Linked DNA regions of Homo sapiens. The protein of the gene in region 2 interacts with the protein of the main gene of each other region in a biochemical or structural test. Each region holds a gene or a part of one and is shown on either strand. Other genes may lie near its edges.

Region 1 (3,657 bases), on a different chromosome or scaffold from region 2:
CCCTCATCGGTAAAAAATGTTATTCAGATACTCCTGTGCTATTATCACATATACAACAGAACATAAAAACAATCTAAAAATAGTAAAATTTTAAGTGGCAAAAATTGGGAAGAATTCTAGACAATAAAAATGGAAGAATACCTGAATGAGGGGAGAACTCGAAGTGTAATCTAACTGGTAAATAGTAATACTAATCTTTGTTAAGCATTTTTTAAAAACTGGTAAAATTTAAAACTACAAGTTCTATCATTTTCTTATCCACTTTGAGAGACTACTGCTTGGGGAGTGGGATCTATGGATTAGAGTAATCCCTCACAGCTGGAGGCTTTAGGGAAGAATTGGTGTTTAAGATGGCCCTGAAAGGTGAGTGGGATTTCTAAGGCAAGATCCAAAGGAGGGCATGCCAGGCAGAGGAACACTGTCACAGAGTATCTAGTGTGTTTGGAAATGCAATCAGTCCTGCTTGGCTTGACTAGGATGTAGGGTGTTTAGAAATGGCTGGGAAGGTAAGGTAAGACTGTGTTGTAGAGAGCCTGGGTATTGGATAGGTGAGGTGAGTGAACTCAGGGCCCTTCAGATATACTATTCTGACTGCTGTGTGGCTGGCAGGGAGAACGTATAAAGGAGGACGTGTTACAGTTAGACTGTATGGCAACAGTCAGAGGGGAGGAGCCAGGGAAGAAGGTCTAAGGGCATCTATAATCTCCTGGAATTGGCCAAGCCATGGACATCGTCCTTCTGGTGGTGTCCATACCTTCTCTCATTTAGAATAACCTTTCTCACCAGGCCCAGAATCTCTCCTGGGTTGCCTAGAGATTCCACCCTGCTGGTCCTACATGTGCTGTCAGCAAATTCTGATACTTACTTGGATGGAAAGTGGAAAAGGATGGGGGTGGGGGTGGGGTATCTGGAAGTCAAGTTGATTTTTCTTTTGTCCCCTCCCCACAACATATGGGAGCTAGTATCTAAGCTAAACCCCTCATTCTAACCACAATCTAGAAACTTCACTGACCAACTATCTGCCCTTCCTGCGAACAGTCCTCTGTATTGTTGTTTGGGTACCTTAGCTTTCTTCTCCTGGATTAGTAGCCCCTCTTCCTCCAGTGTTGTACCCTCCCATAACCAATGTCAGCAACTCAGCTTTGGTTCCAGGTCACTAGTCTGGTGGAGTAGGGGAAGCTGACCTCTACAGCCTAGCTCTGACCCTATCTCCTGCCTTCCTCCAGACAACCTCTCCTACATTGAGCACATCTTTGAGATCTCCCGCCGTCCTGACCTACTCACTATGGTGGTTGACTACAGAACCCGTGTGCTGAAGATCTCTGAGGAGGATGAGCTGGACACCAAGCTAACCCGTATCCCCAGTGCCAAGAAGTACAAAGGTAAGCGGCCACTCCTTTAACTAGCTGCACCTCTGCCTCGTCCCGTTGACTATCCTTGGAGTACTTGAGTTTTGGGAGAGTGGAGGCAGATGCCCAATGGGCCTGCCTGGCATCTCCCACACTGCTGTCCCTGGACACATACCTTTTTGCCCCCAGACATTATCCGGCAGCCCTCTGAGGAAGAGATCATCAAATTGGCTCCCCCACCGAAGAAGGCCTGAGCAAGGGGGAGGAAGAGGAGGAAGGTTGGACCTTCATCAGACCACTCCCTTCCCCCATCCTCCAGGAGAGGGGGCAAGGGCAACCCACCATCTACCCACTTACTAACCTGGTCCTAACCCCCTTACTGTGCGCGTGTGTGTGCGTGTGCGCACGCTCTGGCTGTTTGTCTATATGTCTAGCTCATCTAGTTCCTCTTCTTAAGGGGATGGGGGTCAGGGGCTAGGGGAGGGGGCTGAGTTTCCCCACTTTAGGAGGAGGTGGGGGCTATTTCTATGCAAATAGAAATCAGCACATTCCTCCTACTTCCCTTTCCTCCACTCCCCCCATATCTTTAAAGTGTGGAAGCAGAAAGGACCTGCATTTTCCTACATTGAGGAGCTGACATAGGGGTAAGGTATGGGAGAGGTAGGTGGATCCAGGGAAAAGCAGTGGGGACGGAAGGCAAAGAGACCACTCAACCCCCACCTGGAAGGGGCAAAGAAAAGCCAGAGTTCCATGTTTGTACTCCTGTGCTGGACTGTTTCCTGAGTACCAGCAGGTCCCTTTTTGTCTCTCATGGGCCTAGCATAGGTATGAGCCAGGGATCCTTTCCTGGTCCCTAAGATCAAACCCCATGGAGCAGCCAGCGTTAGATGCCCCCACCCACCTGTACTCTGGAGAGACTGTGCTGGGAACATGTACCACTGAGCCTGAGATGGGGATGAGGGCAGAGAGAGGGGAGCCCCCTCTTCCACTCAGTTGTTCCTACTCAGACTGTTGCACTCTAAACCTAGGGAGGTTGAAGAATGAGACCCTTAGGTTTTAACACGAATCCTGACACCACCATCTATAGGGTCCCAACTTGGTTATTGTAGGCAACCTTCCCTCTCTCCTTGGTGAAGAACATCCCAAGCCAGAAAGAAGTTAACTACAGTGTTTTCCTTTGCACCGATCCCCACCCCAATTCAATCCCGGAAGGGACTTACTTAGGAAACCCTTCTTTACTAGATATCCTGGCCCCCTGGGCTTGTGAACACCTCCTAGCCACATCACTACAGTACAGTGAGTGACCCCAGCCTCCTGCCTACCCCAAGATGCCCCTCCCCACCCTGACCGTGCTAACTGTGTGTACATATATATTCTACATATATGTATATTAAAACTGCACTGCCATGTCTGCCCTTTTTTGTGGTGTCTAGCATTAACTTATTGTCTAGGCCAGAGCGGGGGTGGGAGGGGAATGCCACAGTGAAGGGAGTGGCAGAATCAAATTGCTACATAGTCCAAACAAAAAAGAAGGCTTTTTCAAAAAACATTAAATTCACATGCAGTCTCAGAGACTATTTAGACAAAGTTCAAGTTAGGAGCTTTTAGGATGTGGGAGTAAAACTTTAATGGGAGGGGAGGGCTGGCTGCTGGAAGAAGGAAGAAGCCAGACTGGTTAGACAGTACTCTTAACTCCTAGCCCAGCCTAGCGTGCCCTGCCCCTCTGGCCACTGCTGCAGACACCTGCCTTAACACACACACCTCTAGGACTCCACAGTTTTGCCTTAAAGGACCTTCCCAAGTCTCCCTTTCCCTGTCTGGCTTCTCCCTTAAGAAGAGAGAGATACTTGTAGAATTGGGTGGGGGGAATGAGCATGAACTGTCCTTCCATTTGGGATATGTTACATTAGAGTGAGAGAGAGAATAAGGAGCCTTTCTTATGGAAGAAATGGGAGAAGAGAGACAGGGTTCTTTTCAGCAGAGTCTAGTAGTTTCTCTGTAAGGCAAAATAATCTAAAAAGACTAACCTGCCCACCCACTCCTTATATTGCTGTGAGATTGCCCCTATCTTGTGCTCTTCTGTCTGCAGTGTGCACGGCCTTGTTCTAACCCGGAATAAAGGTGATTGATTGTATTGCAACTAACTGATTTTAAAATTTCTGTGAGTGACCAGGATTTTGCAGGCTTTGAATCACTGGGAAGGGAGGGGGAACAATATTTATGGCCCAGAATAAGGGCTGGGAAAATACCCCAAGTGTATACCCTCACCCCACCCAATCTCCTAAGTATCACTGAGCTAAATGGAGTG
Region 2 (2,447 bases):
ACTAACTTGGTAGGAGTTACGATGCCTCTGATTCTCTTGAAAGACAAACTGTATTCACTAGTTTGATTTTGAAATGTAGAGATCAAATTTCAATCAACCCAGCAGCTAAGGATGACAGGAAATTTTACAGGACTAGAAGGAATCATCTTCTCTTATCTGGATCTGATCCTCCTCGACACCTTGGGGGTTTCCGAAGGCTGTGTGCTCTCAGTTTTAGCTGGTTGTTACGTAATCAAATATCCCATGCATGTTTTTACATTTGATCAGGTGGGCCTAATCACAAGGACTCATGTTGTCAGTGCCTTTGGGAGCAAAATGAAATAAATCTCTGTCTCAATATTGGAATTTATTCCTTCCTGTTGCTTAGTGGTGTCAAGATACAGTGTCAATGTTACCAGAAGTGCCTAACACAGTCTACTGTGTAGGCTAAAGTCTGCCGTGTTCGTACAGTGACTGAAAAGGAATAATGACTATATCCTCATTTGGGTGAATGTTACTACTTCAGGACCAGATGAGCAGGGGCATCCCATGTAACCATGAAGAATCTTGAAGCAGCATTACAACATCTAATAATAAACAATCTCTCAAACAGTGCCTGTATGAACTGCAAGATGAGGGCAGGTCCAGCTAGACATTGGCTGCATAAATGAAGATCAGAGAAGAATAAGGAGATTCAGACAACTTTTGGCAACCTAGATCACAGTTACTGGTAAATTCTTGTTACAAAGGAAATGGATTTTGGTATACGGAATTTGAATATGTGTTTTACTCAACAGAGTACATGCTACCAACAAGAATGCAGCCCCCTTTTTACAAGTTAGGCAGAAGGAATTATAAAGTCTTGCTGATGTTTACAGTCCTTACATCAATGTGACTGCAGCCCTCCCCAGTCATTCCAAAAGGTCCTTGGGTTGGATACGAGAATGCGTCAGGCCTGGCTTTGGCTATGACATCCCCAGGAAGTCACTGTGTGCAGTGTGGTCTCCAGGGTGGAAGTCTTTGAGCTGCCAATGAATATCTCTTAAGTCCAAACCTCCATGGGCACTATGGCCTCTTTGGTCCCAACAGAAGGCAGTAGGCTTTCTTCAGACAAGAAATAAAAGGGGAATTGCACCAAAAATCCACGGATCTTCTTCAGTTCCTCCTCAGCTCGAATGGGATCTTCCTTAGCTAATACGGGCTTGTTTATAAAGTCTCTCAGCTGAATTAAATTGTGTACTTCATCATTGGGAAGGCACCGGAAAACCTGATTAGAGCATAAATAGAAAAATGAGTGAAAAGTTTAAAAGCGAGCACATGGCCTTTATGGAAAATAATTATTCCAACAGACAAGACCTCTGTTGTATGAAACATATTATTAGTCTTATGTTACAGCACAGACCTGATTTAAGAGTTGGTTATCTTATAACCAACAATAGATAGATCTGCTACAAACAGATAGATCTGCTTCCATTTAAAAAATCATGGTTAGTGGCAAGAAATTACACTAATGTTACCCCACATTAAGGTTAATTTTTTTTGGATAATAATCATCCCTGAATTTCACTGGAGCTTCTGGTCTAAGAGGAATATTGCATATTATATTTTCCCTAACTTTTCTTGAAAGAGGCTCATATCTGTACCTTTACATAGCATTATCAATTGTTAATATGTAACACTTACTTTGCTGGTTGAAAATGAGTTTTGGATATCATAACACTTCACCCCTGAATACTTCTCTGCAGGTATGTCTTAAGAATAAGGACATGTGCCTATATAATCACAGCACTATTCTCACACCTAAGAAAATTAATTATATAATGTCATTTAAGTTATGCTTCATATTCAGATTTATCCTGTTATCCCCAAAATGTCTTTTATAGATGTTTTCCCCCAAATCCAGGACCCAAATAAGGCTGTGCACTGCATTTGTAAAATTACATTTTAATGACTCTATGCACATGACCTATTTGATCATGGCCTTCGGTCCATGAAATAAGGATGAAATAAGGTTATACAGGGGTCAGGCGCATTGGGTCATGCCTGTAATCCTAGCACTTTGAGAGGCCAAGGCAGGCGGATCACTTGAGGTCAGGAGTTCAAGACCAGCCTGTATCATAATACAAAAATTAGCTGGGTGTGCTGGTGGGCACCTGTAGGCCCAGCTACTCGGGAGGCTGAGGCAGGGGAATCACTTGAACCCAGGAGGTAGAAATTGCAGTGAGCCGAGATCATGCCACTGCACTCCAGCCTGGGCAACAGGGTGAGACTCCATGTCAATTAAAAAAAAAAAAAAAAGGAAAGAAAGAAAAGAAACAAGGTTATACAGACAGTAGACATGTTTCATTAAGAATAATAAGTTTCTCTGCTGGAAGGGGCTCTAAGAGAAAAATTGCGTATTTTCCCTAATTTTTTTTTTTAAAGAGGTTCACGTCTGTCCCTGGAAGTCATGAAGAAGAACACAGACT
Region 3 (3,657 bases), about 120 Mb from region 2:
CTCAGGCCTTGCCTAACAGCCAGCATGGTGTCTTTTCCTACCTACCAACTCAAAATACAGATTTGTTTCCATGGTTTCCACATTATAGCAGAAAATTTACTTAGTCTTGTATCTTCCTCTCTCGCCTGTATGCCTGGTAGGATGTTATTTAAAATTTGATTTCTTCCCTCCTGTCTGCTTTCTTTCCTAGTAGAATGTTATTTATAATTAAACACTTTTATAAGCTACAGAGTTATTTTTGACTTGACATTTTGAATTATGCCACTTGGTTCAGTTCTAGTATCTGTTTTGTTTTTTTGTTTTTTTCCTAATTGAGTCAAGGTCTCACTGCCTAGGCTGCAGTGCAGTGGCACAATCTCTGCTTACTGCAACCTCCGCCTCCCGGGCTCAAGCAGTCCTCCCACCTCAGTCTCCCAAGTAGCTGGGACTACAGGCGTGCACCACCACAGTCAGCTAATTTTTTTTTTTTTTTAAATGGAGTTTCGCTCTTGTTGGCCAGGCTGGAGTGCAGTGGTGCAATCTCAGCTCATTGCAACCTCCACTCATTGCAACCTCCGCCTCCTGGGTTCAAGCGATTCTCCTGCCTCAGCCTCCTGAGTAGCTGGGATTACAGGCATGCTTCACCACGCCCAGCTAATTTTGTATTTTCAGTAGAGATGGGGTTTCTCCACATTTGTCAGGCTAGTCTCGAACTTCCGACTTCAGGTGATCCGCCCGCCTTGGCCTCCCAAAGTGCTGGGATTACAGGCGTGAGCCACCGCACCCAGCCCACACTCAGCTAAGTTTTATTTTATTTATTTTTTTTTTTTTTAGAGATGGAGGCTCGCTTTGTCGCCCATGCTGGAGTGCTGGAGTGCAGTGGCACGATCTTGGCTCACTGCAACCTTTGCCTCTCGAGTTCAAGCAATTCACCTGCCTTAGCCTCTCCAGTAGCTGGGACTACAGGCGCACGCTGCCGTGCCTGGCTAATTTCTTTCGTATTTTAGTAGGGACGGGGTTTCACCATGTTGCCCAGGCTGGTCTCGAACTCCTGAGCTCAGGCAGTCAGCCCGCCTCAGCCTCCCAAAGTGCTAGGATTACAGGCATGAGCCACCGCGCCTGGCCACACTCAGCTAATTTTTAAGGTGTTTTTGTAGAGGTGGGTTCTCAGATTTTCAATTTTGAGAAATTTCAACCTAAAATAATTTAAATATACTCTCATTTGAGCTTGATGCTCATAAAAGTGAATACTCGGCCGGGTGTGGTGGCTCATGCCTGTAATCCCAGCACTTTGGGAGGCCGAGGCAGGCGGATCACGAGGTCAGGAGATCAAGACCATCCTGGCTAACATGGTGAAACCCCGTCTCTACTAAAAGTACGAAAAATTAGCCAAGCGTGGTGGCGGGCGCCTGTAGTCCCAGCTGCTCAGGAGGCTGAGGCAGGAGAATGGCATGAACCCGGGGGCAGAGCTTGCAGTGAGCCAAGATCTTGCCACTGAACTCCAGTCTGAGCAACAGAGTAAGACTCCGTCTCAACAAAAAAAAAAAAAAAAAAAAAAAAAAAAAAAAAGGCCAGGCGCGGTGGGTCACGCCTGCAATCCCAACACTTTGGGAGGCCGAGGCGGACGGATCATGAGGTCAGGAGATCCAGACCATCCTGGCTAACACAGTGAAACCCCGTCTCTACTAAAAATACAAAAAATTAGCCGGGTGTGATGGCGGGCACCTGTAGTCCCAGCTACTTGGGAGGCCAAGGCAGGAGAATGGTGTGAACCCGGGAGACGGAGCTTGCAGGGAGCAGAGATCGCGCCACTGCACTCTAGCCTGGGCGACAGAGCAAGACTACATCTCAAAAAAAAAAAAAAAAAAGAAAAAAGAAAAAATGTAAATACTCCTGTGTTTTACTGTTTTAGACCGTCTGCCATTTCAATGGTCTGCCATTTCAATGTACTATGGTAAGTGTCACTTTTTCTAAAAGTGGGTGGGGGGATTAACCTTGCACTCTTGTGGTTGTTTTTCCCATTACAGGTAGAGTTGGCTTTGTGGGACACAGCTGGGCAGGAAGATTATGATCGCCTGAGGCCCCTCTCCTACCCAGATACCGATGTTATACTGATGTGTTTTTCCATCGACAGCCCTGATAGTTTAGGTGAGTGGCCCTGCACCCTGATATTTGTCACTGCCTGTGTAGCTAGTTGGCATCTGGTTTCTGGGCATCAAGTGGCTGAAAAGCAGACATGAACTTCAGAGAAGCAATCATCGTCAGTGGCCGGAGTCCTGGAGTTTGGGATTGTAGAGCGTGGGCCTTGGGTCCCTTTCAGCCTAGGTCTCCCATGGGTACTGTATTTAAAATGTATCCACCTAGGCAGGGCACGGTGCCTGACACCTATAATCCCTGCGCTTTGGGAGGTCCAGACGGGTGGATCACCTGAGGGTCAGGAGTTCAAGACCAGCCTGGCCAACATGGTGAAACCCCGTCTTTACTAAAAGTACAAAAAAATTAGCCAGGCATGGTGGTGCACGCCTGTAGTCCCAGGTACTTGGGAGGCTGAGGCAGGAGAATCGTTTGAACCTGGTAGGTGGAGATTGCAGTGAGCCGAGATTATGGCACTGCATTCCAGACTGAGCAACAGAGCAAGACTCTATCTCAAAAATAATAATTATTATTATTATTACTAAATAATATTAAATGTTATTTAAAAATCTAACTGCCTTGTAAACTAGATGAATTCCAGATACAAAGATGAGTAAACTAAGGCTGGTGCGGCGGCTGACACCTGTAATCCTAGCACTTTGGGAGGCCGAGGCTGGCAGATCACCTGAGGTCAGGAGTTTGAGACCAGCCTAGGCAACATGGTGAACCCCTTGTCTCTACTAAAATACAAAAATTAGCTGGGTGTGGTGGCGTGCACTTGTAATCCCAGCTATTCCAGGGGCTGAGGCAGGAGAATCACTTGAGCCTGGGAAGCAGAAGTTGCAGTGAGCCAAGATCATGCCACTGTACTGCAGACTCCATCTCCCAAAAAAAAAGATGAGCAAACTAGATGAGTTCCAAATGTAAAGCCATCTCTTTTGGGGAAAGACTTTCTTTTTTTTGGTTGCCCTGTCTTAGCCTTTTTCTGAAGTGTCTTAGCTGATAGAAGCTTGAATGTGATCATTTCATTAGCCTAAACACAGCCACATAATTCAGAAGTCAGTAAGTCAGTATTCTTTTTTTTTTTTTTTTTTTTTTTTGAGAGGGAGTCTTGCTCTGTCTCCCAGGCTGGATTGCAGCAGCTTGATCTCAGCTCACTGCAAGCTCTGCCTCCTGGGTTGATGCCATTCTCCTGCCTCAGCCACCCAAGTAGCTGGGACTACAGGTGGCCACCACCACGCCCGGCTAATTTTTTGTATTTTTTAGTAGAGATGGGATTTCACCACGTTAGCCAGGATGATCTTGATCTCCTGACCTCGTGATCCGCCTGCCTCGGCCTCCCAAAGTGCTGGGATTACAGGCGTGAGCCACTGCGCCTGGCCCAGAAGTCAGTATTCTTTAGAAAAAGACTGAAGAATGCTAACCTGACATTCTGTGAAACCAGGCTTGAAAAAACTTGCTTTAGGTTTGTGCTGAAGATGATGAGGTATCTATTAATAAACTTGTGCTGCAGCCCTCCCTGTCATGACAGGGCAGCAGGTGGGT

What was found.
Region 1: the proteins of PLD1 (region 2) and PEA15 form a complex in vitro, tested with the Homo sapiens proteins (one study listed by BioGRID).
Region 3: the proteins of PLD1 (region 2) and RHOA form a complex in vitro, tested with the Homo sapiens proteins (2 studies listed by BioGRID, with this or other methods).

What each region holds. Positions count from the first base shown.
Region 1 is NC_000001.11:160,211,884-160,215,540, forward strand, and holds the end of PEA15 (astrocytic phosphoprotein PEA-15), read left to right. Parts: intron 1-1,226; coding exon 1,227-1,382; intron 1,383-1,538; coding exon 1,539-1,603; 3' UTR 1,604-3,489; downstream 3,490-3,657. UniProt on the Homo sapiens protein: Blocks Ras-mediated inhibition of integrin activation and modulates the ERK MAP kinase cascade. Inhibits RPS6KA3 activities by retaining it in the cytoplasm. Inhibits both TNFRSF6- and TNFRSF1A-mediated CASP8 activity and apoptosis.
Region 2 is NC_000003.12:171,602,057-171,604,503, forward strand, and holds part of PLD1 (phospholipase D1), read right to left. Parts: intron 1,247-2,447; coding exon 1,022-1,246; 3' UTR 1-1,021. UniProt on the Homo sapiens protein: Function as phospholipase selective for phosphatidylcholine. Implicated as a critical step in numerous cellular pathways, including signal transduction, membrane trafficking, and the regulation of mitosis.
Region 3 is NC_000003.12:49,366,898-49,370,554, reverse strand, and holds part of RHOA (transforming protein RhoA isoform 1 precursor), read left to right. Parts: intron 1-2,006; coding exon 2,007-2,127; intron 2,128-3,657. UniProt on the Homo sapiens protein: Small GTPase which cycles between an active GTP-bound and an inactive GDP-bound state.